Linked DNA regions of Homo sapiens. The protein of the gene in region 1 purifies or fractionates together with the protein of each later gene. This does not show direct contact. Each region holds a gene or a part of one and is shown in the gene's direction. Other genes may lie near its edges. The genes, in order: TESPA1 and ITPR3.

Region 1 (3,441 bases):
ATGGCATTACTTTTTTTAACGATGTGTGTTGGCAAAGATGTAGAGAAGGTAGGCCGGGCACGGTGGCTCACGCCTGTAATCCCAGCACTTTGGGAGGCCGAGGCGGGCAGATCACGAGGTCAGGAGATTGAGAGCATCCTGGCTAACACGGTGAAACCCCGTCTCTACTAAAAATACAAAAAAAATTAGCCAGGCGTAGTGGCGGGTCCCTGTAGTCCCAGCTACTCGGGAGGCTTGAGGCAGGAGAATGGCGTGAACCCGGGAGGCGGAGCTTGCAGTGAGCTGTGATCGTGCCACTGCACTCTAGCGTGGGCGACAGAGCGAGACTCCGTCTCAAAAAAAAAAAAAGTAAATAAAAAAAGATGTAGAGAAGGTAAGTCTGGACAGATGTGTCCAACATTGAACAGGGAGAAGGTGGCTGAGGAGAGTAGAAAAAGGAAAAGCAGAATATTGATATTCTAGGCAGAGAGAAAGGTAAGTTCAAAGACAGATGAATGGAATACCACAATATCTTATGGAAACTACACCTTATGCCTAGTGGGAGAAAGGGGATGTGCTGGAGAAAGATCAAAACTGAAAATAAGAAAGATAAATAGAAAGGAAGTTATAAAACAGAGTCTCCTATGTTATTTTAAGTGTTTTGGTTTAGTCTAAGGTAGGAATCCACTGAAAAATTTACAAAGGAAGTGATGTGATTAGATTTGTCTTTTAGAAAGATTATTCTGGTAGAAGTATGGGAGATGGACTGGGTAGGAAGCCGGCAGAGTAAGGAAAATAATTTAAGAATCTACTGCAGAAACCTAGGGAGAAATGTGATGATCAGAAACAAGCTGAAGGCAGTGGGAATAGAGGGGAGGACGAGTGAGATTTTGAGATATTCAGGAGGTAAAATATCTAAGCCAGGACCGATTAGACTTGTGTTTGGGGAAGAAAAATGGAATAAGGAACAGAAAGAAAGATAGGGCATACAGGTTTCCTCTTGGGCAACTAAATGGATGTAAATATCATTTTATTAAGAATGAAGTAAAAATAGGAATAACAATTTGGAAGGCAAATATATTAAAGTATAATTTTCAAAAAGGTAAAATAATGACTCTCATGCAAATGTAGATAAACATGTTCAAAGACTTTACTCAATTCATTAATTACTGAAGGCACCAGCAATATGCTTGACCTGGTCCAAAGACTATTTGAGAAGTCAGTTTATACAGAGAGAGAATTTAACAGATTGCCATATTAGATACAAAACTGGTTAATATCCAATAACAGCATAAACTTTATCTCTGGGATTACTGGTTCCACTGGATGGAAATTATTTGCATCTCTACCCAACATAAATCACTAAGGTAATCTCTGCTCTTGCAAAACTATAAAATAGCAGTGTAAATAGAAAGTCAAGATTAACACTGTACTGAAAGAGTATCTAGTCATCTTGTTTGACTATTTAGAAAAAGCTGATGAGTTCATATCTGAACATGGTGAGTGTAAGGTACTTCTAAAATACTGTGATAAAGAGGTTCATGTCTTCATTGGTTTCTGTTGCTATAATAGAACATTACAAACTAGGTATTTTACTTTATAAAAGAAATTTATTTACTACAGTTCTGGGAGCTGGGAAGTCCAAGGTTGAGGGACCACATCCGGTGAGGGCCTCCTTTCTGCATCATAACATGGCAGAGGATATCACATGGTAAAAAAGCAAGAGCATGCCATCTCAGGTCTCCCTTCCTCTTCTTATATAGCCAAGATTCCCATCATGGGGCCTCACCCTGATGAGTTTATCTAATCCTAATTTTTTCCCTAAGACCTCACCTCTTGATACTATCACGATGGCAATTAAATTCCAACATGAATTTTGGAGGGCAAACTCAAACAACAGTCCATAAGGCAGTTTGGATAAAGGAATCTAGGAATTGAGCTTTTTGGAGTTCAAGGCTTACTTATAATAGGTGACGGCATGAGGAAAGATAGTTCACCCAAGAAAGTATGCAGAATCAGAATCTGAAGTAAAAAAAAAAAAACAACTTAGAAATATTAATATTTAAAGTTTTATCAAGGAACAACGTATATAAAGGAGCAATATTGATTAGAAAAAGGTTGCAAATAGAAACCAAGTGATGTTTCTCTCAAGAAGGAGGGTGTAGTCTTCAGTAACATTTACCATAAAATATCCAATAGGAAGGAAAATGCAAAGATACCATTGTATTTGTGACTAGATAACAATTACTAACCTTGATAAGAATATTTTTATTTGGGTGACAAGGCTTTAAAATATTAATATGAAAAGTGAATAAGAAATGTTGAAAAGAAAGTAGGTAAATAATTTTTTTCTAGGATGGTGAAAGTTTAAGCATACAGTAAATATTTCCCTGGAAGGAAAGAATCAATAGAATGGGAAAGGCTATGGTTTAGGAGGGAAGGAATTGTATGAGTCTCTTCTCACATTGCTGTAAGGACCTAGCTGAGAGTGGGTAAAGAAAAGAGGTTTAATTGGCTCATGGTTCCACAGGCTGTGCAGGAGGCATGGCTAGGGAGACCTCAGGAACTTTCATTCATGGCAGAAGGGGAAGGGGAAGCAAGCACATATTCACATGGTCAGCAGGAGAGAGAGAGAAGGGGGAAGAGCTACACACTTTTAAACAACCAGATCTCATGAGAATTCACTCGCTGTCATGAGAACAGCAAGGGGGAAATCTGCTTCTGTGATCCAATCACCTCCCATGAGGCCCCACCTCCAACATTCAGGATCACAATTCAACATGATATTTGGGTGGGGACACAGAGCCAAACTATATCAGGGATGTTAATGGTGTGAAGTCACTGAGAACTGGGATGAGATGAGATTCAAGGCACTTTTGGAGGGTGTAGCTAGCCATAAAGTAGTGTGACAGATATTTCTCTGAGATTAAAGGGAAAAAAAAATGGAAAAAAATTTTAAGTGTCAATATGGTTATATTGGTCATCTGGAGAGGAAGTCAAGAAAAATTCTGCCTATTTCTTTCTCTCTTTTTCCTGTGGGGTCATTACTAAAAAGTGTGAGTCAGGAAAGGAATGGTAAAAATTTGAGAATTCTACTATGTAGAAAAAACAAGAGAAATACTTATTAATAGAAAATGCATTGCTAGTTGAATAGGTGAATAATGTTAGGCTCATTTCAAGGTGCAGAACATGAATTGATAGTGGTTTAGTGATATTCTCCAACAGTGTTCAGCAATCCATACAAAAAAATAAAGGTATAAATGTATGCCTTTATAAGTATTAAACAGTAAGAGGTAAACTCTTGCAGGAATCTCACCTCATGATGAAAAGAGCAGAAACCCCAAGTCACATGACTCTTTGCTGCTGCTGCTAATAACTTTAAATGTCACTTATAATACTGAGAAACATTTCCACAGCTGAGGTATGAAAGTTCCTACCAACCTCAGTACCCAAAGTTGTTTA
Region 2 (3,817 bases), on another chromosome or scaffold:
CCACACTTCCAGGAAGGGGCTGGTTGGCTTCTCTACACTCTGGGGCTGCTAAGGGCCGACCCAGCAGCAAGGGACTGGGGAACCTCCTTCCAGAGGAAGCCTGGAGAACCCAGAGGCCTGCTAGTGGGGTTGGAGCTCATGAGGGGGTCGGGACCACCCCTCACTCCTGCAGCGCCCTCCTGTCTATGCAGCACATTTCTGTGCGCTGTCTCGTTGGCCTGTAGAGGGGGTGTGGTGGATTATTTTCCCCACGTGGCAGGAGACTGAGGCTCAGAGAGGCTAAGGGGTTTGCCCAAGGTCACACAGAGCTGGGAGAGAAGCCAGGCTTGGCAGCTCCCAGCCAGGGCTCTGAGCAGACAGACATCACGCTGTGTTCAGGGTGTCTCTGTGGGTGTGGGCCCCTCAGACAGAGGCAGGGCAATCTGTGGGGCTGTTTGGCGTTTGGGTCGGAGGAATGGCAGTCACACCCGGGTCATTTCTTGGGCCTGGCAATGACTCTGCCCTGCCCACCCCAGGACATCATCACAGCCCTGGAGGAGCGGCTGAAGCCCCTGGTACAGGCTGAGCTGTCCGTGCTGGTGGATGTCCTGCACTGGCCTGAGCTGCTCTTCCTGGAGGGCAGTGAGGCCTACCAGCGCTGCGAGAGTGGGGGCTTCCTGTCCAAGTGAGCGAGACACTGGGGCATGGGGGCAGCAGGGGTGCAGCGGCAGGGGACAGAGAAGGGCCCGGTGGGGACTAGACAGGCTCACTGGGTCAGAGGGCCTGGGGGTGTTCCTGCCTGGGATGGGGTGGGGAAGTAGCTGGAGGGAGGCAGTGTGGGGCTGCCCTGAGCTGCCTCCTTGGCCGGCTCAGGCTGATCCAGCACACCAAGGACCTCATGGAGTCGGAGGAGAAGCTGTGCATCAAGGTGCTGCGGACCCTGCAGCAGATGCTGCTCAAGAAGACCAAGTACGGGGACCGGGTGAGTGCCCTGGTGGGGCAAGTGCTGGGTGGGCCAGTCAGGAGTACCCAGGGGCTCAGGGTCAAGCCCGTCAGGCCAGTGGTCAGTGGTGGGCTGTACCCACAATGGGGCCTCACTCCCATCCTCCCCCAGGGCAACCAGCTGCGCAAGATGCTGCTGCAAAACTACCTCCAGAACCGGAAGTCCACCTCGCGGGGGGACCTTCCCGACCCCATAGGCACTGGTCAGTATCACCTTCCCCTGCCCCCGGGCCCTCCCTTCCACTCTCCTGTCACACCAGCTCTCCCTCAACCGAGTCCCGCCTCCAGGCCTGGACCCAGACTGGTCGGCAATCGCAGCCACCCAGTGCCGGCTGGACAAGGAGGGGGCCACCAAGTTGGTATGCGACCTCATCACCAGCACCAAGAACGAGAAGATCTTCCAGGAGAGCATCGGCCTGGCCATCCACCTGCTGGATGGTGGCAACACAGAGATCCAGGTGTGGGGGGCCTGGGGCCTGGACATGCCCTCCTTTGCCTCCCTCCCTTTTTGGAGGAGGTGGGCCTTGAGTTGGGCACTGAAGGCCGAGGAGGGTGTGAAAGAGGAGAGGCCTGAGCAGTGGCTGAGAGGTGAGAAGAGTGGGCATGATGGGGGCAGGGTGGTGAGGAGACGGGCTCAGGCCTGGCTGGGGCAGAGGGGTATGCGGGGGTGATGAAAGGACCACGTGACACAGGAGCAGATATGGGGCATGGAGCCGCCCATGGGTGGCCATGGATGCTAGCCACCAGCACCCAGGCCTGCAGCCAGGCCCCTGCAGCCCCAGCGGCCCCAGCAGTGTGGTGTGCCTGCCCCACGCCCTGAGTAGGAGCAGGGCCCAGTGCTGAGGTTGTTCCCTGGCCACTGTCCACCTCCAGAAATCCTTCCACAACCTGATGATGAGTGACAAGAAGTCAGAGCGCTTCTTCAAGGTGCTGCACGACCGCATGAAGCGGGCCCAGCAGGAGACCAAGTCCACGGTGGCAGTCAACATGAATGACCTGGGCAGCCAGCCACATGAGGACCGCGAGCCAGTCGACCCCACCACCAAAGGTCAGGGGTCTGAGGCAGAGGCACGGCGTGACGGGGATCCCAGGATAAGATGTGCAGGGGGGTGGCCAAGGGGGTGGGCAGCTCCAGCCTCACCAGGTCTCGCCCACAGGCCGCGTGGCCTCCTTCTCGATACCTGGCTCCTCATCCCGCTACTCGCTGGGCCCCAGCCTGCGCCGGGGGCACGAGGTGAGCGAACGTGTGCAGAGCAGTGAGATGGGCACATCCGTGCTCATCATGCAGCCCATCCTGCGCTTTCTGCAGCTGCTGTGTGAGAACCACAACCGGGACCTGCAGGTGAGTGCCTCGCCACACACCTGCCCCTTCCCCCGCTGGCCAGCCGGCATGCAGACTAGGCAGTGTGGCTGGTGTCCCTCTATGGCAGGTGTGCCCTGCCCTGGGCACTGCTGCTTTGTGGCTGGTGGTTCCCCTACCCCTGCAGCACACAAGATCGTGCTTCCCAGGCCAGCCTCCCTCTCCGTGCTGTAGCTGTGCTGTGCCCAACCCTTCTGTGCCCCGCAGAACTTCCTGCGCTGTCAGAACAACAAAACCAACTACAACTTGGTATGCGAGACGCTGCAGTTCCTGGACATCATGTGCGGCAGCACCACGGGCGGCCTGGGGCTGCTGGGGCTCTACATCAATGAGGACAACGTGGGCCTCGTCATCCAGACCTTGGAGACCCTCACTGAGTACTGCCAGGGCCCCTGCCATGAGAACCAGGTGAGCTGTCCTGGTGGCATAAGTGGCAGCCAGGGTGGCAGTGTGGACATGTGGGTAGATGGAGCCAGCTGGGGCAGGGAGAGAGGCTGAGGTCTCTGGAGCTGCCACTATTCTGAGAGGGCCTGGGCCCTGTGTCCCCCACTGCCTCCTGCCAGACTTGCATTGTGACTCACGAGTCCAATGGCATAGACATCATCACCGCACTGATCCTCAATGACATCAGCCCCCTGTGCAAGTACCGCATGGATCTGGTGCTGCAGCTCAAGGTGGGGCCCAGTGGCAGGTGTGTGAGTGCTGGGTGTGCATGTGATGTGCATGCATGTATGTGTGACTTGTGTGTCAAGTGTACATAGTGGTGTGTAATGTGGGTGTTAGCATTGTGTGATGGGGCATCATCTGGATGCACAAGTGTGTGGTGTGTGCAGGGTGTGTGTGTAATATACGCATGTTTAAGCATGCTGGAACATACACTCACTCTGGATGCAAATATATTCTGGTTTAGCTGAGGACTTGCTATGTGTGTGTCTGCTGTCTGGGTAGCTGAGTGTTTGCCACAGCGGGGGTGAAGGCAAGCCTATGGGTGGGCTGGCTGTGCAGGATGCTTCTCATTAAGCCGGGGGGAGGGAGGATGGGAAGGTCATGGCACCTGACCTTTTGTTGGATGGGAGAGCTGTTATGGAGAGGAATGAGGGAGAAGTTGTCAGGGGCATGGTGTCCTGAGACTGTGGCCTGCCTCCCTCTGCCCCTCCACCCAGGACAATGCCTCCAAGCTGCTCCTGGCTCTGATGGAGAGCCGGCATGACAGTGAAAATGCTGAGCGAATCCTCATCAGCCTGCGGCCCCAGGAGCTGGTGAGGCTGGGCAGGTGGGCAGGCGGGCGGAACCAGGTGGAGTGTGTTGGGATGGGGATGAGGGCCCGGCTGGCCCTACCGCCCTAGGAAGAGAGCATTGGAACAGGCACTGCCCCTCCAGGTGGACGTCATCAAGAAGGCCTACCTGCAGGAGGAAGAGCGTGAGAACTCGGAGGTGAGCCCACGTGAAGTGGGCCATAACATCTATATCCTGGCG

The links.
Region 2: the proteins of TESPA1 (region 1) and ITPR3 purify together in Homo sapiens (affinity purification with mass spectrometry; 3 studies listed by BioGRID and IntAct, with this or other methods). This does not show direct contact.

What each region holds. Positions count from the first base shown.
Region 1 is NC_000012.12:54,950,430-54,953,870, reverse strand, and holds part of TESPA1 (protein TESPA1), read left to right. Parts: intron 1-3,441. UniProt on the Homo sapiens protein: Required for the development and maturation of T-cells, its function being essential for the late stages of thymocyte development.
Region 2 is NC_000006.12:33,683,505-33,687,321, forward strand, and holds part of ITPR3 (inositol 1,4,5-trisphosphate-gated calcium channel ITPR3), read left to right. Parts: intron 1-515; coding exon 516-664; intron 665-852; coding exon 853-961; intron 962-1,093; coding exon 1,094-1,184; intron 1,185-1,269; coding exon 1,270-1,439; intron 1,440-1,854; coding exon 1,855-2,029; intron 2,030-2,138; coding exon 2,139-2,323; intron 2,324-2,548; coding exon 2,549-2,749; intron 2,750-2,904; coding exon 2,905-3,015; intron 3,016-3,504; coding exon 3,505-3,600; intron 3,601-3,721; coding exon 3,722-3,817.